Regions from separate parts of the Homo sapiens genome. Here regions 2, 3, 4 and 5 are each linked to region 1. Evidence: fine-mapped expression QTL. A gene starts in region 1. Each other region holds a variant in brackets. All regions are shown on one strand. Distances are between the middles of the regions.

Evidence for each region. PIP is the estimated chance that this variant, and not a neighbour inherited with it, causes the effect.
Region 2: its variant is fine-mapped to the expression of TARS2 in hypothalamus (GTEx, PIP 0.92).
Region 3: its variant is fine-mapped to the expression of TARS2 in unexposed skin (GTEx, PIP 0.95).
Region 4: its variant is fine-mapped to the expression of TARS2 in whole blood (INTERVAL, PIP 0.94).
Region 5: its variant is fine-mapped to the expression of TARS2 in whole blood (TOPMed, PIP above 0.99).

The regions. Positions count from the first base shown.
Region 1 is chr1:150,484,748-150,489,851 of GRCh38, forward strand. It overlaps TARS2 (threonyl-tRNA synthetase 2, mitochondrial), which reads left to right and starts at 2,672. Exons shown (of 18, transcript NM_025150.5): 1 at 2,672-2,769; 2 at 3,111-3,307; 3 at 4,217-4,340. The coding sequence starts at 2,704. It overlaps LOC124904416 (a long non-coding RNA gene), which reads left to right. Exons shown (of 2, transcript XR_007066600.1): 1 at 1-42; 2 at 298-607. RefSeq lists enhancers at 2,497-3,003, 2,497-2,766.
Region 2 is chr1:150,273,846-150,278,949 of GRCh38, forward strand. C1orf54 (chromosome 1 open reading frame 54) reads left to right here. Exons shown (of 6, transcript NM_024579.4): 2 at 242-325; 3 at 1,896-1,954; 4 at 2,677-2,787. The region is part of intron 1 of LOC124904414; the gene reads right to left. Among named protein-coding and RNA genes, the nearest start is that of C1orf54, 3.6 kb to the left of the region's middle. The variant C/A (reference allele first, on the strand shown) is at 2,848.
Region 3 is chr1:150,528,767-150,533,870 of GRCh38, forward strand. FALEC (focally amplified lncRNA regulator of ECM1) reads left to right here. Exons shown (of 6, transcript NR_186305.1): 4 at 3,484-3,627; 5 at 3,891-4,020. Among named protein-coding and RNA genes, the nearest start is that of FALEC, 16 kb to the left of the region's middle. RefSeq lists an enhancer at 3,964-4,954. The variant C/T (reference allele first, on the strand shown) is at 2,820.
Region 4 is chr1:150,290,678-150,295,781 of GRCh38, forward strand. MRPS21 (mitochondrial ribosomal protein S21) reads left to right here and starts at 3,184. Exons shown (of 3, transcript NM_031901.6): 1 at 3,184-3,221; 2 at 3,658-3,772. The coding sequence starts at 3,690. It overlaps LOC105371434 (a long non-coding RNA gene), which reads right to left and starts at 3,143. Exons shown (of 2, transcript XR_922129.4): 1 at 2,955-3,143; 2 at 2,623-2,820. RefSeq lists an enhancer at 3,472-3,531. The variant T/C (reference allele first, on the strand shown) is at 2,607.
Region 5 is chr1:150,428,870-150,433,973 of GRCh38, forward strand. The region is part of intron 2 of RPRD2 (regulation of nuclear pre-mRNA domain containing 2); the gene reads left to right. Among named protein-coding and RNA genes, the nearest start is that of TARS2, 56 kb to the right of the region's middle. The variant CAG/C (reference allele first, on the strand shown) is at 2,800.

The DNA.
Region 1 (5,104 bases):
GATCGGCATCCCCTCAGCACCCAGCTCACTGCATTGCACACAGTAAGCAGTTAGTAAATGAGAGCATCAAATCAATACCGTGATTGGTACATACTTGATTCAATAATTATTGGGCACCTACCATTTTGTTGCCTGCAATACACCTTTCCCCTTTTGGTGCAGAGGCATGAGAAGAATTCTGCCTGTTGCCACCCTTTCTGAATGCCATTTAAAAATTCTTAACTACCTTCTCCAAACCACACACACACAAGTTATCTTCCTCTCCCACACTCTTGTCTCTTTCTCTTTGTATTTCAGGGTGTCTACCAGAAGATGGACCCAAGATCCATGGAGGCTCCTGTGACTCAGATCAACTGCCCTGCCCGGGAAACCTGGTCTCTCCGGAAACCTTGATTAAACTGCTTTTTCTGACACCTCTTCCTCTACAACCCTTGATTCTATCACCATTGAAACTTCAGAACCAACTCTAACCATCCCCACCTCCAGGTGAGGGGACTAATGAGAATTACTGACAGCCTGATGGCTACCCCCAAGTCAGTTTCCCTTCATACTTTACTACAAATCTGACCATGTTCCCATATTTACTGAGTAAATTTGATGAAATTTACCTAGTCCTGTGTCCTAGATGTATCAGGGAGAGGGAAGAGAAAGGATAAAGGAAGTTGAGAGCTGGGATAGGAATTAGAGGCAAAGGGCTTATGTAGGGAGCAGAGAGCTAAAATTCTAGTCAGGCACCTCTTTCTGAGGTGATGGGGGAGTATACTGGGAGCAAACTCTTCTAGAGAAAGCATGGTGTGGTAAAAGAAAACCAAGCTTGGATTCAGAAATCACCATCAGCACTTGCTGTTTGACCTTAAATTCCTCATCTGTCAGATTAAAAGGTCTCGGCCGGGCATGGTGGCTCACGCCTGTAATCCCAGCACTTTGGGAGGCTGAGGCAGGCGGATCACCTGATGCTGGGAGTTCGGGACCAGCCTGACCAACATGGAGAAACCCTGTCTCTACTAAAAATACAAAATTAGCTGGGCCTGGGGTGGCACATGCCTGTAATCCCAGCTACTCGGGAGGCTGAGGCAGGAGAAGCGCTTGAACCTGGGGAGGCGGAGGTTGCGGTAAGCCGAGATCACGCCACTGCACTCCAGCCTGGGCAACAAGAGTGAAACTCCATCTCAAAAAAAAAAAAAAAAGATTAAAAGGTCTATAAAGTCCCTATTAAGCACCATGAGTATAAAGGGACTCAAACTGACCTCTGCAGATTCTTGATTCCAGCTTTTTTGTTTTTGTTTTGTTTTGAGATGAAGTCTCGCTCTTGTCCCCCAGGCTGGAGTGCATGGCGTGATCTCGGCTCACTGCAACCTCCACCTCCCGGGTTCAAGCGATTCTCCTGTCTCAGCCTCCCAAGTAGCTGGGATTACAGGCGCCCACCACCATGCCCAGCTAATTTTTGTATTTTTAGTAGAGACGGGGTTTCACCATGTTGGCCAGGCTGGTCTAGAACTCCTGACCTCAGGTGATCCACCCGCCTCGGCCTCCCAAGTAGCTGGGATTACAGGCGCCCACCACCACGCCCAGCTAATTTTTGTATTTTTAGTAGAGACGGGGTTTCACCATGTTGGCCAGGCTGGTCTAGAACTCCTGACCTCAGGTGATCCACCTGCCTCGGCCTCCCAAAGTGCTGGGATTACAGCGTGAGCCACTGCGCGCGGCCATCTTTGCTCCAGCTTTAAAGTGGTTACTCCAGAGGCTGAGGTGGTCAGTTGAGCCCAGGAGGTCGAGACTGCAGTGAGCCATGATTGTACCCCTGCACTCCAGCCTGGGCAACGGTGAGACCTTGTCTCAAAATTAAAAAATAAAACTGTTACAGTCATTTATCATAATAGCTTCTTGTTGCTTTTGCCCATTACCAAAAAACCATGGGCCACACTAGACGATTTACATAAAATTTAACTCAACAATTGGGAGCAACACTATTCTCATTTTATAGTTGAGAAAATTGAGGCTTAGAGAAATTAAATAGGTCAGGCAAGGCGGCTCATGCCTGTAATTCCAGAACTCTGGGAGGCCGGAGCGCGGTGGCGGTTTGGTGGGGGGGAGGGGAGGGATTGCTTGAGGCCAGGAGTTCGAGACTACCCTGGCCAACATAGTGAGACCCGCCCCCCCCTCCCGCCCCCCCCGGTCTCTATTAAATAAATATGAGAAGTTTAATAATTTTCCCAAAATTACATAGTTAATGGCAGATCCAGAATTTACACTAGGTCTGTCTGGTTCCCCAGTCTATGCTCTTAAGTTTTGCTACTTGCTGTAAGGACCACGTAAAATAAAATGTATAGTTAAAGGGAAATTACTACCATTTCCTGTCTGGTTTTCTCCCACTCTCGCCCTCAAAAGTTCACCTGCCCTTGTCCTCAAAGCCACAGGACGCCTAATTGCTATTTTTGGGTTTCAGCTGAAACGCCACGGGTCTGGGGGAATAGCGAGGGTGTGTTACATTTTCGGTCTTCCGGTCAGCCGGAACCACTCACACCGCTGCTGGTGCTGTGTAGGGTGTACCTCTTCGGAGTTCCTGGAGGTGGTGCCAGACTAGAGTGGCAGCTGTAGTAACCAATAGACACGGACTTTGTTGGACCAGAAGCCAATGAAGAATTACGTGGAGGAGAAGCGGCGATAATCTGTTTGAGGATGTAGGCACTGGTGTGAAGGAACATGGCCCTGTATCAGAGGTGGCGGTGTCTCCGGCTCCAAGGTTTACAGGCTTGCAGGCTACACACGGTGCGTGAGGCACCCCCAAAGCTCCGATCCGCATCAGACTTAGCCCAGCCGAAGCCCCCAAATTTTTATGTTAACCCAGCCTCACGCCACTCCTCCTCTCCCTGGTCCTCCGAGTCCCCAGAAAAGGACTCGTATCTAAACTCGTTATCTAATTCTCGAGTTAGCGGTCTGGGGGACTCTGAGCTCGAAGGACCCCCAGCCTAGGGTCTTGTATCACCCAATCCCCTTAAAAAGTAGGAATTCGGACGAAGTCCACTTAACCATCCCAAAGTGCCATCATCTGCAATTCTAAGAAAGAATGATGGGACGTGTGTTACCTGCTAATATATCTTTCCCTCCAGGCAGTTGTGTCGACCCCTCCACGCTGGTTGGCAGAGCGGCTTGGCCTTTTTGAGGAGCTGTGGGCTGCTCAGGTAAAGAGATTAGCAAGCATGGCACAGAAGGAACCCCGGACTATTAAGATATCACTTCCTGGAGGCCAGAAAATTGATGCTGTGGCATGGAACACAACCCCCTACCAACTAGCCCGGCAGATCAGGTAACAGGCCCATCCTGTAACTACCAGGATTATCCTTCTGCCCCTTTACTTTCTCTTCACTTGAGCAGGGGAAGAAAACTTGGTCTGCTTGTTTCTGTTCCGTCCCCATTAAGATAGCCTTTCCTGAAGATTTTGTTTTTGTTTTTTGTTGTTGTTCTTTTATACAGACGGGGTCTCTCCATGTTGCCCAGGCTAGTCTTGAACTCCTGGGCTCAAGCGATCCTTCCATCTCAGCCTCCCGAAGTGCTGGGATTACAGGCATGAGCCACCAAACCCGGCCTGAGATTTGTTTTATCTGTATTAGTTTCTGCATCAGAGTCTCTGTCCTTTCATTGGGGAAAGAAATGAAAGCTTCTGTTGCTCTGGTAACTCATTTCACCTTTGCAAGTTTACAGTTGCTGAGAGATGAGCAACTTTCTCCCCACTGTGGATTGTAACCCTGTCTGTTTTAAATCATTAATTTACTTTTTAATAATTGATACATAATAATTGAACATATGAATGGGTATATGTGATATTTTGATATATGCATACAATATGTAATGATCAAATCAGGGTGTTCAGGATATCTGTTACCCCAAACATTTATCATTTCTTTGTGTTGGGACTATTTCAAATCTTCTAGCTATTTTGAAATATACAATAAATTATTATTAACTGTATTCACCCAACTCTGCTATGGAACATTAGAGCATATTCCTTCTGTCTAACTCTATTTTTGTACCCATTAGCCAACCTCTTCATCTCCCCTCCCCCATCCTTTCCAGCCTCTGGTAACTATCACTCTATTCTCTACCACTGTGAGATCAACTTTTTAAACTCTCATATAGGAATCAGAACATGTGATATTTTCCTTTTTGTGCCTTGTAACCCTGTCTTTTTCTTCATCCCCACCTTCCACTGCTGAAGTTCAACACTGGCAGATACTGCAGTGGCTGCTCAAGTGAATGGAGAACCTTATGATCTGGAGCGGCCCTTGGAGACAGATTCTGACCTCAGATTTCTGACATTCGATTCCCCAGAGGGGAAAGCAGTAAGTTTCTTTCTTATCAGGAATACAGTGACTACTAAACCAAGAGATATTGAAGCAGGAAATTCTAACATTTTATTCTTTTGCCGCAGTTTCTCCATTTGCAGTTGGGAGGGAGACCTACCACAGACTGTCTTGACTATTTCTGGTTAGGAAACTTATGGTGAAAGTTTTTAACTTAGCTTCGATCTATTAAGCAAACATTTGTGCTAGTGAGAGGGAGAGAGATGATATGTTGAAAAAACGAAAGGATAAATATGTAAATTCAGCCCCCTCAACTCTTGAGCACGTACATTATAAGTCATCTGTAGTGTATATTCAATTCTAACATGGCTTATACAGCTGAGCAAACAACCTGGTCACCTCCCCACCTTGTCTTCTTCATGTCAGCTCAGGTAGCACAGACCTTGCCTATTAGGATCCAGAAAAATAGAGTTCTCCTGCCATCTATGTGTAAATAGTGACCAAATCCAAGAGGAATATATCGCACTAGATTCGTGGGACAGAAAAAAATAGGACTAAAAGACCAAACAGAGACCTAAGTAACCACTGTGTTAAGAAGATAGCTTATTCTGGCCAGGCACAGTAGCTCACGCCTGTAATCCCAGCACTTTGGGAGGCCGAGGCAGGTGGATCATCTGAGGTCAAGAGTTCAAGACCAGCCTGGCCAACATAGTAGAAACCCCGTCTCTACTAAAAATACAAAAATTAGCTGGGCGTGGTGGTGAGCACTTGTCATCCCAGCTAATTGAGAGGCTGAGGCAGGA
Region 2 (5,104 bases), 210 kb before region 1:
AGGAGTTCCTGGATTGAAAGGGCACGGAGTAACAGGCCTCATTACAGATATGGATCCCAGAAGACTGAGAGGGGTGTAGAGGTGCACAGGCAAGAAAGGAGTATGACTATTGGAGGAGAGAGAGAGAGAGAGAAAAGAAAGAAAGAGCAAGAAAGCTGGGAGCGCTGAGGTCATCTCCAGGTGTCCTTTTGTTAGTAAGGTGTTCCAGATGTCCCTTGACCTCTAGTCCTTGTCCCCATAGGACAAGAATATGAGGATGAAGAAAGACTGGGAGAGGATGAATATTATCAGGTGGTCTATTATTATACAGTCACCCCCAGTTATGGTGAGTACATGAAAGGCTCTTGCCCTTAGCCAACTGGAGAGAGGCTTCAGGATATTTAGTTCTGAGACTTTGCTCTTCACTTTGAAGCAGAGCAATGGGGTCAGAGAAAAATCTGGCTATGAACAAAACCTATCAAGACTCATGATGGGGCCGGGCGTGGTGGCTCACACCTGTAATCCCAGCACTTTGGGAGGCTGAGGCGGGCGGATCACGAGGTCAGGAGATCGAGACCATCCTGGCTAACACAGTGAAACCCTGTCTCTACTAAAAATACAAAAAATTAGCCGGGTGTGGTGGCGGGTGCCTGCAGTCCCAGCTACTTGGGAGGCTGAGGCAGGAGAATGGCATGAACCCGGGAGGCAGAGGTTGCAGTGAGCTGAGATCGTGCCACTGCACTCCAGCCTGGGTGACAGAGCAAGACTCCATCTCAAAAAAAAAAAATGAAAAAAGATTTATGATGGGCTGGGCGCAGTGACTCATGCCTGTAATCCCAGCACTTTGGGAGGCTGAGGTGGGTGGATCACCTGCGGTCAGGAGTTTGAGACCAGCCTGGCCAACATGGTGAAACCCTGTCTCTACTAAAAATACAAAAATTAGCTGGGCATGGTGGCACCTGCCTGTAGTCCCAGTTATTCAGGAGGCTGAGGCAGGAGAATCGCTTGAACCTGGGAGGCAGAGGTTGTGGTGAACTGAGATCACACCACTGCACTCCAGCCTGGGCGACAGAATGAGACTACGTCACAAAAAAAAAAAAAGACTCATGATGATGTTATTTTTCCAGATAGTGATTTTTAGATGGGAGGATTGCTTGAGCCCAGGAGTTCAAGACCACCCTGGACATCATAGCAAGACCTTGTCTCTATAGAAAAAAAAATTTTTTTTTTTTGAGACCAAATCTCATGCTGTCACCCAGGCTAGAGTGCAGTGGCACAATCTCAGCTCACTGCAACCTCTGCCTCTCGGCTTCCAGCTATTCTCTTGCCTCAGCCTCCTAGGTAGCTGGGACTACAGGCGTGTGCTACCATGCCCGGCTAATTTTGTATCTTTAGTAGAGACAAGGTGTCACCATGTTGGCCACGCTGGTCTTGAACTCCTGATCTCGTGATCTGCCCACCTCAGCCTCCCAAAGTGCTGGGATTACAGGCTTGAGCCATCGTGCCCGGCCAAATTTTTTTTTTTTTAATTAGCTGGGCATGGTGGCACATGGCTGTAGTCCCAGCTACTCAGGAGGCTGAGGCAGGAGGATCACTTGAGCTCAGGAGCTGGAGGTGGCAGTGAGCTATGATTGAACCAACTGTACTCCAGCCTGTTAACACAGTGAGACCCTGACTCTAAAAAAAGAAGAACTTGAAAATTTTTCAAATTTGTAAATTATTTTAGATACCTACATTGAAAATATAAATGCATACACATTCACAGTCATTTTTAACATTAGTTAAATAAAATTGGATTATACCAATAAATGTTACAACTTAAGTTAAACTATTCTGAGTAATTTCTTCCCTTTTCATTTCCAGATCTAGAGTTACATTTTTCTTTAATTATTACTGATTTTCTTTCTCCTCTGCAGATGACTTTAGTGCAGATTTCACCATTGATTACTCCATATTTGAGTCAGAGGACAGGCTGGTGAGTGAACTCTACATCTAAAAGGGTTAGGATAAGTAACAATTAAAAAGAAACTGGCCGGGCGCAGTGGCTCATGCCTATAATCCCAGCACTTTGGGAGGCCAAGGCGAGTGGATCATTTGAGGTCAAGAGTTTGAGACCAGCCTGGCCAAAATGGTGAAACCCCGTCTCTACTAAAAATACAAAAACATTAGTTGGACATGGTAGCATATGCCTATAATCCCAGCTACTCAGAAGGCTGAGGTAGGAGAATCACTTGAATCCGGGAGATGGAGGACGCAGTGAGCCAAGATCGTTCCACTGCACTCCAGCCTGGGTGACAGATCCAGACTTCATCTACAAAAAAAAAAGAAAAAAGAAAAGAAAAGAAACTGGGCAATGTTGAAATGTATCTGATTAACAAGAATAAAAATGAGTTTGATGAGGAGAAACTAAGTAGTAGGCCCAAAACAGATTTGTTAACCTATCTGGGGAGGAGAAAAAAGCCAGAACTTTATAAATTGTCCTCAGTAAGTTTGCTAAGACACTGAGGAGGGGCATCAAGGGACTTTTGAATGAGATGGGTACAAATCTATGCAAGCATAGGGTAGGGGGGAATCCCTGAGCTTAAGTCTTTGGGCTGGGTGGAGGTGGTGAAGGGGAGAACTTTAAGTAGAGAATCTATGAAGATGTTGGATGGAAAAACTGATAACTCTGTGTTTCCCAAATCCTACTGAGGGTAGAACAGGTTGGATAAGGACATAACAGAAGCAATAGAGACTACCATTAGTCTTGAAACAGCACGTGCAGACCATCCGAAGCCTGTAACTGTGAAACCAGTAACAACGGAACCTGTGAGTTGATTGGGGATTGGGGGCTGGGGGGAGACAGGACATCCCTAGTGACGTGGAATA[C/A]ATAGAGGGCTGGAATACCAGGCTTTGGTGGATGGGAGAACCAAATAATTAGTACTTCATTGCAGGTATTCATCTCAACTTGGCCATGTTTCACTAAGATTTAATACTAACCCTGTTTACAGAACACTGGGAAGATATGGTACAGTTAAATTTCAGTTCAGTAGTATTCAATAGGTATGTAATCTATGCCTAAGGCTGCTAAGGTAACTGATGCTGATAAAAAAGAAATCTATGTTACTGTCCTCAAGGATTTATAAAATTCAAGTTTACGAAACACTTAGAACAAAATGAAAAGGTATGTTATGATGTTAAATTATATATAAATTTGAAAGCAGAAGATACTGGCAGTGCTTTAGCCAATGTAAGAAGAGAGATTAGTACAGGCTAGAGTTGTCTGAAAAGCTTTCAAGAGGCATTTGTGCTTGAGATACACCCTGAAGAATAGATGAGCTTTTGATTGGTGGGTAGTTATGGAAGGACAGAAGCAATTAGGAGGAAGAATAGTTATTCCAAGAGTGAAAGAGGCCAGGTATGGCGGCTTATGCCTGTAATCCCAGCACTTTGGGGAGGCCAAGGTGGTCGGATCACTTGAGGTCAGCAGTTCAAGGCTAGTTCAATGGCCAACATGGTGGAAACCCCATCTCTACTAAAAATACAAAAGTTAGCCAGGCGTGGTGGTGCGTGCCTGTAATCCCAGCTACTTGGGAAGCTGAGGCATGAGAATCACTTGAACCCGGGAGGCAGAGGTTGCAGTGAGCCGAGATCACGCCACTCTACTCCAGCCTGGGCGACAGAGTGAGACTCTATACTAAAAAAAAAAAAAAAAAAAAAAAAAGAGTGAAAGAGCTGCACAGGAGGGGGGAATAGAACAAGCATAATATGTTTAGCAAATAGGGTATGATTGAAGGAGAGGGTATATGGAAGGGAACAGTGGGAATTAAGAAAAATATAAAATTTACAAGGCTCCTAATACTTGCTTAGTAATTTCACATGTGGCAACATAGGGGCAAATTTCAGAGAGTCTCAGGTGTCAGGCTGAAGTCTGGACTCATAATCAACAAGGAGCCTAGTAAGTTCTTCATTATGGTAAAAACACGATGAAAAGTGATATTTTAGAAAAACCGGCCAGGTGTGGTGGCTCACGACTGTAATCTCAGCACTTTGGGAGGCTGAAGTGAGCTGATCACCTGAAGTCGGGAGTTCGAGACCAGCCTGACCAACATGGAGAAACCCTGTCTATAGTAAAAATACAGAATTAGCTGGGTGTGGTGGCACATGCCTGTAATCCCAGCTACCTGGGAGGCTGAGGCAGGAGAATCGCTTGAACCTGGGAGGCGGAGGTTGCAGTGAGCCGAAATCGCGCTATTGCACTCCAGCCTGGGAAACAAGAGTGAAACTCCATCTCAAAAAAAGAAAAAGAAAAACCACTCTTCAGGTTGTATGCAGGATGTAAATAATTTAGTGGAAAGCAACTCATGAGATTTGCGTTGTTCCAGAAACAATCTGTACTCTGGCATTATGAATGGAGAGGAGAAAAATAAATATTATGAAGAAAATACCTTGCTTGAGTGATAATTTTATATGAAGTATAAATGAGGAGTGAGTTAAAATAACTCATGGGTTTTAAACATGGATGTCTGGGAAAATGGTTGACCAAAGTGGGAACTATGGGAGGCCAGAGTGGTTTAGGACAGAAGTTATTAATTTGGTAATGGCCAAGCTGAGTTTATGGTGACAGCCCTATGAGGGTGTCCTAAAGGTCACTGAACTAGATCAGGGCTAGAGTTCTAAGTGCAAAGTCACAGATATGAAAGTAAATGAGCTCAACAGAGCCAGTACACACAAGCTCAGAAGGCCAGTGACTGTGCCTGTAGTGAGTGGGAGGAAGAGAAATTAATGAATGGAATGGAGAAGGATTTGACTGGAGAAGTAGGCAGATAGCCAAGTTTGTATTATAGAGTCTAGAAGAGAAAGTTTAATATAATCCATCAAAAGCTACCAAGAGGCCAAGGAGGAGGAGGTCACTTGTAACTCTCAAGAAAGTAGTTTTAACTGAGTGCTTGGAGAAAAGCTAGATTTTTGTGGAGTTAAAGAGTGAGTACATTATGAGGAAAGGGAGGTGAGTACAGACCAACCATCTAAAAAATCTGGTAATGAAAAAGAGAAGCAACGGCTGGAAAGGGGAATAGGACCAAAGAGCAGCCTGCATATAGTTGAGCACAGATGAAAGAAGCCAGTAAGAATGGAAGTGAAAGAT
Region 3 (5,104 bases), 44 kb after region 1:
TTAGTACAGATGGGATTTCACCATGTTAGCCAGGATGGTCTCAATCTCCTGACCTCTTGATCCGTCTGCTTCGGCCTCCCAAAGTGCTGGGATTACAGGCGTGAGCCACTGCGCCTGGCACTTGTAATTATTAATATTTATTGAATGATGGTCTTTGTCTCAGGGCTATTTGCTCCACCAGAGCAGAGACTATGACAGGCATCCCAGAGCCTAGCCCAATGACAGGCACAGGAGCCACTAAATAAATAGCAAAAAAAAAAAAAAAAAAAAAAATCAAAGGATCTAGAGCACAGGTGGAGGGAGAAGCAGGATAAATCCGTGAAAGGTGTGAATTGAAATATGTGCAGCTGGGCTTCTGCTATCACATGGAAACTTTAAAGCTTAATGAATCATTAAAGAAGGGTTGGAATGACCATTGTGGGAACGGGGTGTGAGTGTTTATCTGGTACAGTAAGAGCTGCCAAGTAGTGTTAAAGGCCCAGCTGGGATTAGAAACCATACGTGTGCATTGGCAGAAACCAGCAGAATTAGAAGATTTCCTCCAGCAGCGTTCAGCCATCTGAGTGTGGGAGAGAAGCTGGGTAATTAGGTCAGCCCCAAAATGGGGGCTTGGTGGGCAGGCTGCTGCCTTTTGTTCCTTTCTCAGATGAAGTAAATGAAAATAGATGTGGAATTTTGTTTTCCTTGTCCCCAAAATGAAACCTTGTAGAACTCAAAGGCTTGCCCTTTGGCCCTAGACTGGAGCCAAAAAGGCTGAAGCATTTACCCCAAACGTCTTCCCCTATGGCCTGCTTGCCTAGCAGGGCCCATGGAAAGATTTGTGGGGATCTGTGATTTTTTTTTTTTTTTGAGGTGGAGTCTCGCTCTGTCACCCAGGCTGGAGTGCAGTGGCGCCATCTCGGCTCACTGCAAGCTCCGCCTCCCGGGTTCACGCCATTCTCCTGCCTCAGTCTCCCGAGTAGCTGGGACTACAGGCGCCTGCCACCACGCCCGGCTAATTTTTTGTATTTTTAGTAGAGACGGGGTTTTCCCATGTTGGCCAGGATGGTCTCGATCTCCTGACCTCATGATCCGCCCACCTCAGCCTCCCAAAGTGCTGGGATTACAGGGGTGAGCCACCGCGCCCAGCCTGTGAATTTCTTAAAGTATGCAAAATGCGGTGTGTCTGTGTGTGTGCATTTTTCTGGGGCGAGTATCTGTAGCTTACATCAAATTCTTTAAAGGGTGATCCAGAAAGACAAGAGCCCCTAACTTGGGTCAGCTCTTGGATCCACTGCTGTGGATCAGGGCCTGACTGATGGGCAGTTACATCCCTGCCTATTGACAAGGGGCAGTGTGGCACAGAGGTAGATGTGCAGGGGCCTGGACTGCACCACCTCAGGGAAGCTACTTAGCTCCTCAGTTTTCTCTTCTGTAAAATGGGAATGATAATCCCAGTTCCTTATTTCAGAGGGCTGTGAAGATTAAGTTAGATAATACATGCAAATGCTGAGGCCATGCTGGGTACTTAGTAACGGCTGGGTACTTACTAATAGGACGCACATTTAAGAACAAAGACTTTGAATCGGGAGGCAGCAGCTGGGGGAGCACAGTTACAGACAATTTTTTTGCTAAGCACAACATCTGATCATTCTCTCCCCTCTGATACTGTGTGGTCCCATGCAGGTTCCTTAATCACTGCCTCAGTTTCCTTATCTGTAAAATGGAGATGATAACAGTAACTGCCTCATGGTTTGCAGGGACTCTCTGAGGCCGGTGCTCACTAAGTGCTGGTTATTATTGCGATTTTTACTGCCCAGGGCCCAAATTCAGGCTCCTCATCTTGATAAGAAAGGCTCTTCCCACCAGGCCTTGCCCCGCACTGAAGCCGTCACAACCCAGCAGGCACCTTCACACTGTCTCCAGTGTCCAGTGGCTCTACGGGCCGAAGCACTGAGCACAGAAGAGAGCGAGTGACCAAACGGAGGCCCGCAACACCCGCGCCCTTCCTCAGAGTATTCCCTTCCAAGAGTGCCCTCGCCCTTCCCTTCCCAATTTCCATCTATAGATATCCAGCTTTTGGTTCAAAGCGGAACTCCAGAAACCACACTGTCCATAACGCCTTCCTAATTCCTCTCATCAGAAGCCCCTGTTCTGAGCCAGTCATGTGGCATATGCAGTTCTCAGGAACAACACACCTCAGTTCCCTAACTGCACTGCAGCCTCTGGGGACAGGCCTGGCCCCATCCTGTTCTTTTTACCACATCTGTCACCATCTTTGCACAGAGAATACCTTTGGTAGAGAGCTCTTGAACAAAGGAAATGAAATACTCAATGATTCCACTATTCCAAGGCATTCACACATCTAAGGGAAGGGAGAAAGAATCCCCAAATGACTGATCTGTACACTAAGAAACTGATTATACAAATGAACAATGGCCAGACCATATATTAAAATACAACTCTAGGCTGGGCACAGTGGCTCATGCCTGTAATCCCAGCACTTTGGGAGGCCGAGGTGGGCGGATCATCCGAGGTCGGGAGTTAGAGACCAGCCTGACCAACATGGAGAAATCCCGTCTCTACTAAAAATATAAAATTAGCCTGTAATCCCAGCTACTCTGGAGGCTGAGGCAGGAGAATTGCTTGAACCTGGGAGGCGGAGGTTGCCGTGAGCCGGGATCTCGCCACTGCACTCCAGCCTGGGCAACAAGAGCAAAACTCCATCTCAAGAAAAAAAAAAATACAACTCTCACCCACAGCCTGCGGTCACTTGCTGGGGAAACTAACTCATTATCTGCAACAATTAACCTGGGAGGTCTTCCTGCTCTAAATCAGGC[C/T]TGCAAGAAGCCAGATTGCTATCTCTAGTGACAATCCAGGAAGCTAAACAATAACCAATAATGTCTGTAACAATCAGCCCCAAATGGCCAGAATTTGATTAGTAACTGACAGTTTCCTTAATTTTGTCCTCACTTTAGGACCAACCAGGGAAAGCCAAAAATGCACCCCTAACCAAGCACACAGGATGCCCTGCTTCTAGTTAGCCCATGCACGGGCAGCTTCCCCACACCAACAGCCTCCAATCAGGGCACACCTGAAGCCTTCACTTTCCTCAGCTATAAAGGTGTCCCACTCCTCTGCCTGCCTTCGAAGCTCCGTCAAAATGCAAGTGCAGATGGCTGACACCCTTGCTCTGTCGCCCAGGCTGGAGTGCAGTGGCACGATCTTGGCTCACTGCAAGCTCCGCCTCCCGGGTTCACGCCATTCTCCTGCCTCTCAGCCTCCCGAGTAGCTGGGACTACAGGTGCCCACCACCACGCCCAGCTAATTTTTTTGTATTTTTAGTAGAGACAGGGTTTCACCATGTTAGCCAGGATGGTCTTGATCTCCTGACCTCCTGATCCACCTGCCTCGGCCTCCCAAAGTGCTGGGATTACAGGCATGAGCCACCGCACCCGGCCAGCCTTTGCTTTTTTAAAGTTGGTTTTCCTTTATTTCCACAAGACCCAGGAACGAAAGCGCAGGGAGCAGAGGCTGGACCGTCCTCTGTCAGTTCCCTCGTTCCCCTGGAGTGGAGCTCTGAGCCCTGGGACCACAGAGTTGGCTGTTACACTGGAAACACTGATCAGACCTTTGGACTCAGCTGAGGTAAGGCTGGAGAAGCCAATTGACTCAGATGAAATACCCCAGGCATAAAATCACAAAAGAGTTTTTGTTAGATGCTGGTTGGGAGGGAGTGGCTCCAGAGATCTGGGAAAAGAGCAGGCCGGCCGGCAATAGAGACATGAGGGAAAGGCAGGAACTTTGCCTAGAATGGGGGCCAGGGGTTGCCAGCACCCGCCTTGGTGGGACAGAGAATTGAGTCAAGATTCTTATCTCACCTCCACTATGATCCTTTTTTCATTCCACAGATATTCACTGAGTGCATAGTGTGTGCGCCAGGCCCTGTTCTGGGAGATGACAGGCAAGGCCACTGACTTCGTGGAGCTCGCCCCCTAACGGTGAAGACAAACAGTGACTGACTAAGGAAAAAAAAAAAAGGTAATTTCAGAAGTGGCAAGTGCCCTGAGCAAAATAAACTAAGATGGTGCAACAGAGAAAAAGGGTGCTGGGGGGTGGGGACACATGCCCCTTTCTAATGCTGCTTCTTGGAGGAAGGTATCTGTGCTGACACCCTAGCAGCCAGGAGCCAGCAGTGCAACTAGAGAGGAAGAGCTTTTCCAGGCATGGGGAACAGCTTCGGCAAAGACCCTGAGGTGGCCCAGGATTGACATGTCCAATAAAGAACAGAGAGGCCAGTGTGGCCAGAGTAGCAGTAATAGCGTTGGGATGAGGCCAGGGAGGAGGCTCACGCCTGGCCAGGCATGAAGGGCCTTCTTGGCCATGTCAAGAGTTTAGATTTCATTTTATTCAAAAAGGCACTGAATGGCTAGCCTGCCTCAGCCGTTTTTTCAGGGCCTTAGAAGAGCTGCTTTGCCAAGCTCCTGTCAGGATTGCAGCAGAGGGCACCCGTGGGTGTTGAGGGACGGCCTTGAGGGGATGGAGTATAGATCAGCCTCACTGCTGTAAGCCACAACTGAACCCCTTGCTGAGTAGGGCAAGATGGGCCACATCGAGTGTGGAAACTCCGAAACTCTATGCTAAATGTTTTTTGTGTATACCTATCTTAGGAAGAGAACCAGAGCTTTTTTTTTTTTTTTTTTTTTTTGAGATGGAGTCTCACTCTGTTGCCCAGGCTGGAGTGCAGTGGTGCAATCTCTGCTCACTGCAACCTCCGCCTCCCAGGTTCAAGTGATTCTCCTACCTTAGCCTCTTGAGTAGCTGGGACTACAGGTGGTGTGCCACAACACCCGGCTAATTTTTGTATTTTTAGTAGAGATGAGGTTTCGCCATGTTGGCCAGGCTGGTCTCAAACTCCTGACCTCAGGTGATCCACCAGCCTCATCTTCCCAAAGTGTTGGGATTACAGGCATGAGCCACCGTGCCCAGCCTGTTTTTTTCAGATTCTAACTCCTAAGCACTAAGAACCCAGAGCTTTTATCAGCCTCTCAGCAGAGTCTCTGTGACCAAAAAAGATAGAAAAAGGTGAATAATGACACCTGTGCTTCCATATGCATGGGGTATT
Region 4 (5,104 bases), 190 kb before region 1:
CCTAGAACAGTGCTTTGCATATCATATCCTATTCAAATTCTTCAATGGCTCTCGAATGCTTTGAGAAGAAAGTCCAAAATCTTTAGTCACAGTCTCTATTTTTCCCTGTGCTCCCCTGCATGATCTCTCTGTTGCAGGTTTTTGTTTTGTTTTGTTTTGACTCCTGAACACTACACCTTTTTGCCCCTAAGCTCTTGTTCATGCTGTTCACCTTGCCAAACCTTTCCTGCTTCTGTTATCTAAACCCTGCCCTCTTTCAACGACTAACTCAAGTCCATCCTATCATTCTTTCTGTTAAACATGATCTATACACTCAGTGTTTGGCCGTTTACTCCATTAAATGGAATCATGTACATAAAATACCTAGTGCAGGGTTTGGGGCCTGGTGGGGTGGCTCACACTTGTAATCCTAGCACTTTGGGAGACCAGCCTGGACAACATAGTGAAACTATTAAAAATACAAAAAATTAGTCTCTACTAAAAATACAAAAAATTAGCTAGGCGTAGTGGCATGTCCCTGTAATCCCAGCTACTCGGGAGGCTGAGGTGGAAGGATCACCTGAGCTCAGGAGGTCCAGGCTACAGTGAGCTATGATGGTGCCACTGCATTCTAGCCTGGGCAACAAGAGTGAGACTCTGTTTCAGAAAAACAAAAACAAAAATAAAAAACACCCACCTAGTACAGGGTTTAGTATATAGTAGGCTCTCAAAAATGTTACTCTCCAGCTGATCCAATGGTAGTGGTTAACAGAACTTATTAACATCAGTTCCTGTCTCCCTTCCTTTCTTTCAAAGTATCTTCATATTTTTTTTCTCTTTTTTTTTTTTTTTTTTTTGGAGACAGAGTCTCGCTCTGTCACCCAGGCTGGAGTGCAGTGGCACCATCTCAGCTCACTGCAACCTCCACCTCCAGGGTTCAAGTGATTCTCTTGCCTCAGCCTCCCAAGTAGCTGAGACTACAGGCGAGCGCCGCCACGCCCAGCTGATCTTTTGTATTTTTAGTAGAGACGGGGTTTCACTGTGTTAGCCAGGATGGTCTCGATCTCCTGACCTCGTGATCCACCCGCCTCAGCCTCCCAAAGTGCTGGGATTACAGGCGTGAGCCACCGTGCCCGGCATATCTTCATATTTTATTCTATTTGATTCCCATGACAAATTTCGTGAGACTGAACAGGGCAAAATTAGTCCCATTTTAGAGATGAGGAAATAGAGTGAGTCTGGCAAGGGCCAGATAGTAAATATTTTAGGCTTTGTAGGCTTTATGTCTCTATTGCAACTACCCAATTCGGCCATCGTAGCCCAAAGCAGCCATACATAACACACAGTCAAATAAGCATGACTGTAGGTCAACAGCCTTATTTACAAAAACAGGTGGAGCAGGATTTGACCTGTAAACTGTAGTCTCCAGACCCCTGGTTTTAAATGACTTCTTCAAGGTCATAGGCCTGATGAGTATTAGAATTGGGATAGAATCCAGATCTCCCAACTTTGAAGCCAGTGCCTTTCACCACATTATGCTGTGGCATATTTTATTTATTATTTGTTTGTTTATTTATTTTTTGAAATGGAGTTTCACTCTTGTTGCCCAGGCTGGAGTGCAATGGTGCGATCTCGGCTCACTGCCACCTCCGCCTCCCAGGTTCATGTGATTCTCCTGCCTCAGCCTCCCAAGCAGCTGGGATTACAGGCATGTGGCACCACGCCTGGCTAATTTTGTATTTTTAGTAGAGACAGGGTTTCACCATGTTGGCCAGGCTGGTCTCAAACTCCTGACCTCAGGTGATCTACCCGCCTCAGCCTCCCAAAGTGCTGGGATTACAGGCGTGCGCCACCGCGCCTGGCCCTATTTATTTATTTATTCATTTTTAATTTTTTGAGACAGGGTCTCACTCTATTGCCCAGGCCAGGGTGCAGTGGTGTGATCAAAGCTCGCTGCAGCCTTGACCTTCCAGGCTCAGGTGATCCTCCCCCTCAGCCTCCCAAGTAGCTAGGACAACAGGCCATGCCACTACACCCGGCTAATTTCTATATTTTTTGTAAAGACGGAGTTTTGCTTTGTTGCCCAGGCTGGTCTCGAACTTCTGGGCTCAAGTGATCCGCCTGCCTTGGCCTCCCAAAGTGCTGGGATTACAGGTGTGAGCCACCGCGTCCAGCCCATATAATTTATTTTGCATTTATTATATACTACTTTGTTTTAGTATCTTTTATGTGGTCCTAGTGGTCCAGGAGGCACTAGAGTGGTATCAACAGTATCTGACACAGAGTAGTCATTCAGTGAAAGTTTGTTGACAAGCATAATAATGTCCCAATCTAGTTCTATTTCGTTACTTTGGACCTGGCTTACTCTGAGGTGGGCTTAAGTGTTAGTGTAAGTTATTAGCATCAACTGATGATGCACACGTCTGTGTCTGTGTCTGTGTGTGTGTGTGTGTGCGTGAGCGTGCGCGCGCACTCTCTCTCTAAGGGAGGTACGTTTTCCTACAGCCATTAGATGTTAACTTACGTGAATAACCATAAATGGATATGTACAGGTAGCATACAAATAGGAGGACGGGTGTCTCCACAGCGAAGAAGAAATTTAAAAGGAGGTTTTTCAGTAGGTCTCA[T/C]TAGCACGAAAAGGCATAGAAGCTGACATAATTTTTTATTCTAAACCCTGCAGGTGTTTCCCATATATCTTTATTGATTTCACTTTATGTAGTTAAATTAGTGGGAAGATGATATAGGAAACTCACAGTATGTTTATTTCTTTTCCTTAGCACTTAGGCAGATGACGTGTATGAATCAATCTATTTTTCGTCCGGAGAGCAGATCTCAAAGAGTCTGTCCTTTCCAAAGAGAAAACAGGAAGCATCCTCAGGAAGCGCCTACTTCTCTTGTTTTCCATCGAGAAAGAGAAATGGCTCAAATATTTATCAAGGATTTCACAGGATTAAGGGGTATGAAATTGGGCTGACCTTCTCAGAGGCCGAAGGACTTCGACTCCATGAGAGGGCGAGAAACGTGTTTCGGGGGAATTTAAGTCAATGAGTATTTTGCTTTGTCAGGTGTAGAGTCCAGGCCCGGGGAAGAGAGGCAGTCAACAGAGGCCAGAAAGGACGTTGCTATGGTTTCCACGCACGTTGTCTCCCTCGGCCTGTTTCTTTGCGCGGCGCTGGCGATTCCGTAATTTCCGCTTCCGGTAGTGAGAACCCTTCCGGTGGGCTAGGTACTGAGCGCGCGAGGTGAGGAGTTGTGCAGGGTTTGGGGAAAGGAAGGCTGGCTTGGCGAGAGGGCAGGTTTGCGGGCTTTCGCCCCCTTTTCCAAAGACCAACAAAGAGTCCTTCCCCAACTCCCAACTCAACCCCTTTTGGAACTATGTGTGGTGGTTGGGACCCTGTGGCGCATCCTTGTCGCTCGTGTCCTTCTCATGCCCGGCGACGCGTCTTTGTGGTAACGCCCTGCTGCCATCTCTTTTCTTCTCTATGCGAGGATTTGGACTGGCAGTGAGAATAAGAGACAACGATTCACGTCTACTTTCTAGGATGACTTCCATGTGCTCCATCTCGCGCGTCCCTGAGCATGTTGAATTTCCAAATCCTAAATAAGCCGCGCGGTGTAGTTTGTATTATGTTGCGTTTCTCTTTCTGCTTTCCTCGCCCTTTCTCCATCATCCTTTAGGCTCTACAGAGTGAAGGTTTAAATCCAAGGTCATGGCAAAACATCTGAAGTTCATCGCCAGGACTGTGATGGTACAGGAAGGGAACGTGGAAAGCGCATACAGGACCCTAAACAGGTAACTGTTAAGGGACCAGAATCATGCCTAGACTCTCTGGGAAGTGCGGTGGTTATTCTCTCCCTTCCCCTTTCGTTGATTGTTCTCAAAACAGTGCCAGCCCAGGTGTTCACAGTCTCTTAAAACGTCTCAGCCCCTCAGTTTATTATCTTAAAAATGAAGTTCTGGGCCGGGCGCGGTGGCTCACGCCTGTAATCCCAGCACTTTGGGAGGCCGAGGCGGGTGGATCACATGCGGTCAGGAGTTTCAGACCAGCCTGGCCAACATGGTGAAACCGTGTCTCTACTAAAAATACAAAAATTAGCCGGGCGTGGTGGCAAACGCCTGTAATCTCAGCTACTCGAGAGCTGAGGCAGGAGAATCGCTTGAACCCGGGAGGCAGAGGTTGTAGTGAGCCAAGATCGAGCCACTTGCACTCCAGCCTGGGCAAGAGTGAGACTCTATCTCAAAAAAAAAGAAAAAAAGTTCTTCCTCAAACCTAACTGTATGAATTGTATTCAACAAGTAATCACCCCCCGCACCTCCCCGCTTTTAATTTTAATTTTAATTTTTTTTTTTTTTTTTGAGGCAGAGTCTCGCTCTGTCACCCAGGCTGGAGTGCAGCGGCACGATCTCGGCTCACTGCAAGCTCCGCTTCCTGGGTTCACGCCATTCTCCTGCCTCAGCCTCCTGAGCAGCCAGTACTACAGGCTCCCGCCACCACGCCCGGTTAATTTTTGTATTTATAGTAGAGATGGGGTTTCACCGTGTTGGCCAGGATGGTCTTGATCTCCTGACCTCAAGTGATCTGCCTGCCTCTGCCTCCCAAAGTGCTAGGATTACAGGCGTAAGCCACAGCGCCCGGCCCCGCTTTTTAAAAATTGAGACAGGGTCTTGCTGTGTCACTCAACAATCCTCCTGCCTCAGTCTCCTGACTAGCTGGGTCTAGTGACGCACGCCACCACCGCAGTTAATTTTTGTATTTTCTGTACAGAGGGAGTCTCGCCATGTTGCCCAAGCGTAATGACTCCTTTTATGAGGAACCTGAATTCTTTAGAAGACTTAAAAAAGAGCCCAAATGGAAAATCAAGATGTGAAGTTGCTAGGAAGCGGGAACGTAGTATGATAAATAGAAAGCTGAGGGAGTGATTGGTGTGGGACAAAGCTAAAGGAAAAGGTGAATTCAGATTGGCATCCTAGAGAAGCAGGCAAAAGATGGGAAAGCTCACTGGGTGGGATGACTCACACCTGTAATCCTAGCACTTTGGGAAGCCTAGTGGGGAGGATTGCTTGTTGCCAAGAGTTCAAGACCAATCTGGTAAACATAGCAAGACCCCATTTCTAAAAATATTA
Region 5 (5,104 bases), 56 kb before region 1:
CTTCCTGTTATAAGAGTAAGGGGGGGTGTCATTAGCAAAGAAAGCATCTGTTGAACATCCTAGCAATTCTATAAGGTCGCTGTTGAACATCCTAGCAGTTCTACAAGGTCAGCCAATTTTTTTTTTAACTTAAAAATCAAAGAAGAAAAGGTTATGTAACTAAGCATGTTACATGGTTTGTGGTGATTGTAAATTCTGTGAAAATTGACATTGTGGTCAGTAGTGGCTTTTTTTTTTTTTTTAATGGAGTTTTGCTCTTGTTGCCCAGGTTGGAGTGCAGTGGTGCGATCTCAGCTCACCACAACCTTTGCTTCCCGGGTTCAAGCGATTCTCCTGCCTCAATCTCCCAAGTAGCTGGGATTACAGGCATGCGCCACCACGCCTGACTAATTTTGTATTTTTAGTAGAGACGGGGTTTCTCCATGTTGGTCAGGCTGGTCTCGAACTCCCAACCTCAGTTGATCCCAAAGTGTTAGGATTACAGGTGTGAGCCACCACACCCAGCCAGTAGTGGCTTTTTAACCTCTCAGGCTGGAGTACAGTGGCACGATCACGGCTCACTGCAGCCTTGACCTCTGGGTTTCAAGCAGTCCTCCTACCTCAGCTCCCCAGATAGCTGAGACTACAGGCACGCACAACCATACCTGGCTAATTTCTGTATTTTTTGTAAAGGCAAGGTTTCACCATGTTGCCCAGGCTGGTCTCGAACTCCTAGCCTCAAGCGATCCTCCCACCTCGACCTACCAAACTACGAGGCCTTTCTCAAAAAAAGAAAATGATAATATCCTGTTGTCATTCATTCAGCTACTATTTAGTAACAGCAAAGAAACAACAACAAATAAGTTATAATCACTGTTTTGAAGAAGTTCTGTAGTCTAGTTGAAGAAACAGTTGTTTGTATATAATTATGATTTGACTTCTGGCAGAATAGTCAACCATCTATTCCAAGGAGTCATTTTGTTATAAAATAACTACATCCTTGACAAAACTTAAGCAGAACCAAAAACAGTGGATGTATTAGAATGGCAAAGCTAACATTAACCAGCATGCCGATAACATTAATACTATGTGATTTTGGCATTTAAACTAGGCTCTGGAGAAGGGCAAATGTGCTCTTGTGTAATTAGCTCCCCCTGGCTTCTGAGATATAGTTGTTCTATATGAACACATTTTCTGTTTAGGCCACAAGGAATCCCATAGGTTAAAAACAAACGTGCTCACAGTGAAAGATCTCTGAACACACAGAAAAACAGACCACCACAATTGACAATCCATCGATTTAGTTCCTTCCCAAATGAGTTTCAGAGATTGGAATTATCAGACAGAATGTGTAGAGTAATGTATATGAAATGTTAGAGGAAGATTAAATGGAATAACAAAATGAACAACAGGTAAGATATTTGGACAGATGGAAAAAAATAATCTATAGGAACTCTTGAAAGAGAATACGCAAGAATGTAGTTCTGAAGACATCAGAATGCAACAGGAGAAATAAGGAGTGGGGAAAATGAAAAATGAAGGCCAGCCGTGGTGGCTCACACCTATAATCCCATCATGTGAGGCCAAAGTGGGAGAATCACTTGAGCCCAGGAGTTCAAGACCAGCCTGGGCAACAGTGGGACCTCATTTCTATAAAAAAAATACAAATTAGGCAGGTGTGGTGGTGTGTACTTACAGTCCCAGCTACTCAGGAGGCTGAGGCGGGAGGATCATTTGAGCCTGGGAGATTCTGTACAAAAGGAGAGAACTTTTGAGTTCTTTAGAAGATAACACTGTCTGGCTGGGCGTGGTGGCTCACGCCTGTCATCCCAGCACTTTGGGAGGCTGGGGCAGGCGGATCACCTGAGGTTGGGAGTTCGAGACCAGCCTGACCAACATGGAGAAACCCCGTCTCTACTAAAAATACAAAATTAGCCGGACCTGGTGGCGCATGCCTGTAATCCAGCTACTCGGGAGACTGAGGCGGGAAAATCGCTTGAACCGAGAGGTGGAGGTTGCGGTGAGCTGAGATCGCGCCGTTGCACTCCAGCTTGGCCAACAAGAGCGAAACTCCATCTCAAAAAAAAAAAGATAACACGGGCTGAGAACACCCTAAAAGTGATGAAAAATATGAATCTAAGATAAAGGAAGCAATAACATATACTAAATAGCATAAATAAAAATTTTATACCTAGTTATTGTAATGAAATTATAAAACAAGCAGTTTTAAAAGCATCCAGAGTTTACATCTACTAGGGTAACTATAATTCAAAACAAACAAACAACTAGAAAATGACAAGGCTTAGAGAGGATGTGGAAAAATTGGAACCCATTTACATTTCTTGTAGTAATGTAAAATGGTGCAGTTGCTGTGGAAAACAGTTTGGTGGTTCCTCAAAAATTAAACATAGAATTACCACATGATCCAGCAGTTCTACCTCTAGATATATACCCCAAAAGAAATGGAAACAGAGACTTAAACAGATATTTGTATAGGCATGTTCATAGCAGCATTATTCACAGTAGTCAAAAGGAAGAACAGTCTACATGTTTGTCAGTGGATGAATGGATAAACAGTGTGATGTATACAAACATGGAATATTATTCAGTCTTAAAAAGGAAGGATTTTTTTTTTTTTTTTTTTTTTTTGAGACGGGGTTTTGTCCTTGTTGCCCTGGCTGGAGTTCAACAGCACAATCTCGGCTCGCTGCAACTTCCGCTTCCCGGGTTCAAGCAATTCTCCTGCCTCAGCCTTCTGAGTAGCTGGGATTACAGGCGCGCGCCACCATACCCAGCTAATTTTTGTATTTTTAGTAGAGA[CAG/C]GGGTTCACCATGTTGGTCAGGCTGGTCTTGAACTCCTGACCTTAGGTGACCCACCCATGTCAGCCTCCCAAAGTGCTGGGATTACAGGCGTGAGCCACTGCGCCCGGCCAAAAAGGAAGGAAATTCTAATACATGCCGCAGCATGGGTGAACTTTGATGACATTATGCTAAGTGAAACACGCCTGTCACAAAAAGACAAGTATTATATGATGCCACTTACATCAGTCACCTTCAGTAGTCAAATTCAGAGACAGGAAGTAGAATCATGGTTGCTGGAGAAAGGGGAGAATTGGGAGTTATTGTTTAGTGGATATAGTATACCAATTTGGGAAAATAAAGTTTTGGAGTTTGGTTGCACAACAGTGTGAATGTACTTAACTTTTGAACTGTACACTAAAAAAATGGTTAAGGTGGTAAATTTTACGTGTATTTTACCACAATTTTCCTTAAAAAAGGAATGACATTACACTTTCTTCTGGGTGATGGAACAAGACCCTAAATCTTAAAAAAAAAAAAAAAAAGAAAGAAAAGTCTGATAAATGCTACAAAATGGTTGAACCATGAAAACATGCTGAAATAAGCCAGACACAAAAGGACAAATATTGTATGATTACATTTATCAAAATACCTAGAATTGTTAGGTCCATAGAGAGAGATTAAAGGTTATCAGGAGCTGGGAAAAAGAGATAAGGGGGAGTTATTGGTACAGAGTACTGTAGTCTGAATATTTATGTCCCCCCGAAATTCATATGTTGAAACCTAGTCCTTAATGTGGTAGTATTAAGAGGTGGAGCCTTTGGGAGGTGATGAGGTCTAAGGGAGGTAGTGAAAAATTTTGGAAATAGTAGTGAGAATTGCACAACATTGTGAATGTAGTTACTGCCACTGAATTGTACATTTAATGGCTGAAATGGCACACTTTATGTTACATATATTTAATCACAATAAGAAAATGATAAAAAAAAAAAAGCCAAAAAAAAAAAAGATCAGTATAAAAGGACTACAATTAAAGAGTAATAATTGGAGCTGCGCATGGTGGCTCACACGTGTAATCCTGACAAGTTGGGAGGCTGAGGTGGGAGGATTGCCTGAGCCAAGGAGTCTGCAACCAGCCTGGGCAACATGGTGAGATTCCGTCTCTAAAAAAACATGAAATTTAGCCAGGTGTGGTGGCATGTGTTTATAGTCCCAGCTACTCAGGAGGCTGAGGTGGGAGGATCACCTAAGCCTGGGAGATTAAGGCTGCAGTGAGCCGAGATTGCACCACTGTACGCCAGCCTGGGGGACCAGAGTGAGACCCTGTCTCAAGGTGAGGGGGTTGGGGGAAAAGTATAATTGGAATGATTGTAACACAAAGAAATGATATATGTTTGAGGTGATGGCTACCCTATTATATACTCTGATGTCATTATTACACACTATATCAACATATCTCATGTACCCCCAAAAGATACATACCTACTATGTACCCATAAAAATTTTTTTAAATTTTTAAAAAGGACTACAATTAAACTGATGACAGACTTCTCAGCAGCGGCAGTGGAAGCCAGAGGCAGTTGTGAAAAATATTTTTATAGCATTGATAGAAAGTAGCTGTCAGTGTAGATTTGCATACAAAGCAAAACTACTTTCAAGAACCAGGAAAACATAAAGACAGAAACAAAAACAGAAATTTACCATCAACAGACAGACCCTCTCTCTCTCTGTCTGTATATATAATATATAATATATATATACTATATATACACACACACACACACAGACATAATTTTTTTTTTTTTTTTTTTTTTTGAGACGGAGTCTCGCTCTGTCACCCAGGCTGGAGTGCAGTGGCGCAATCTCAGCTCACTGCAAGCTCCTCCTTCCAGGTTCATGCCATTCTCCTGCCTCAGCCTCCCGAGTAGCTGGGACTACAGGCGCCCGCCACAACGCCCAGCTAATTTTTTGTATTTTTAGTAGAGATGGGGTTTCACAGTGTTAGCCAGGATGGTCTCAATCTGCAGACCTCGTGATCCGCCCGCCTCGGCCTCCCAAAGTGCTGGGATTACCATAGTTTTTTTTTTAACCAAGAAGCACTGAACCATCACCAAACTTCTAAATAAGTTTTACACTGGGAAGTTAGCAATATATATAATATGTATAATATATGTAATATAATATACATAATATGTTATATATATGTTATATATACATAATGTTATATATAGTTATATTATGTGTATATGTACATATGTATGTATATATAGTGTGTATACACACACACACACACAGAGGCATATAATTTGTTTTTTAACCAAGAAGA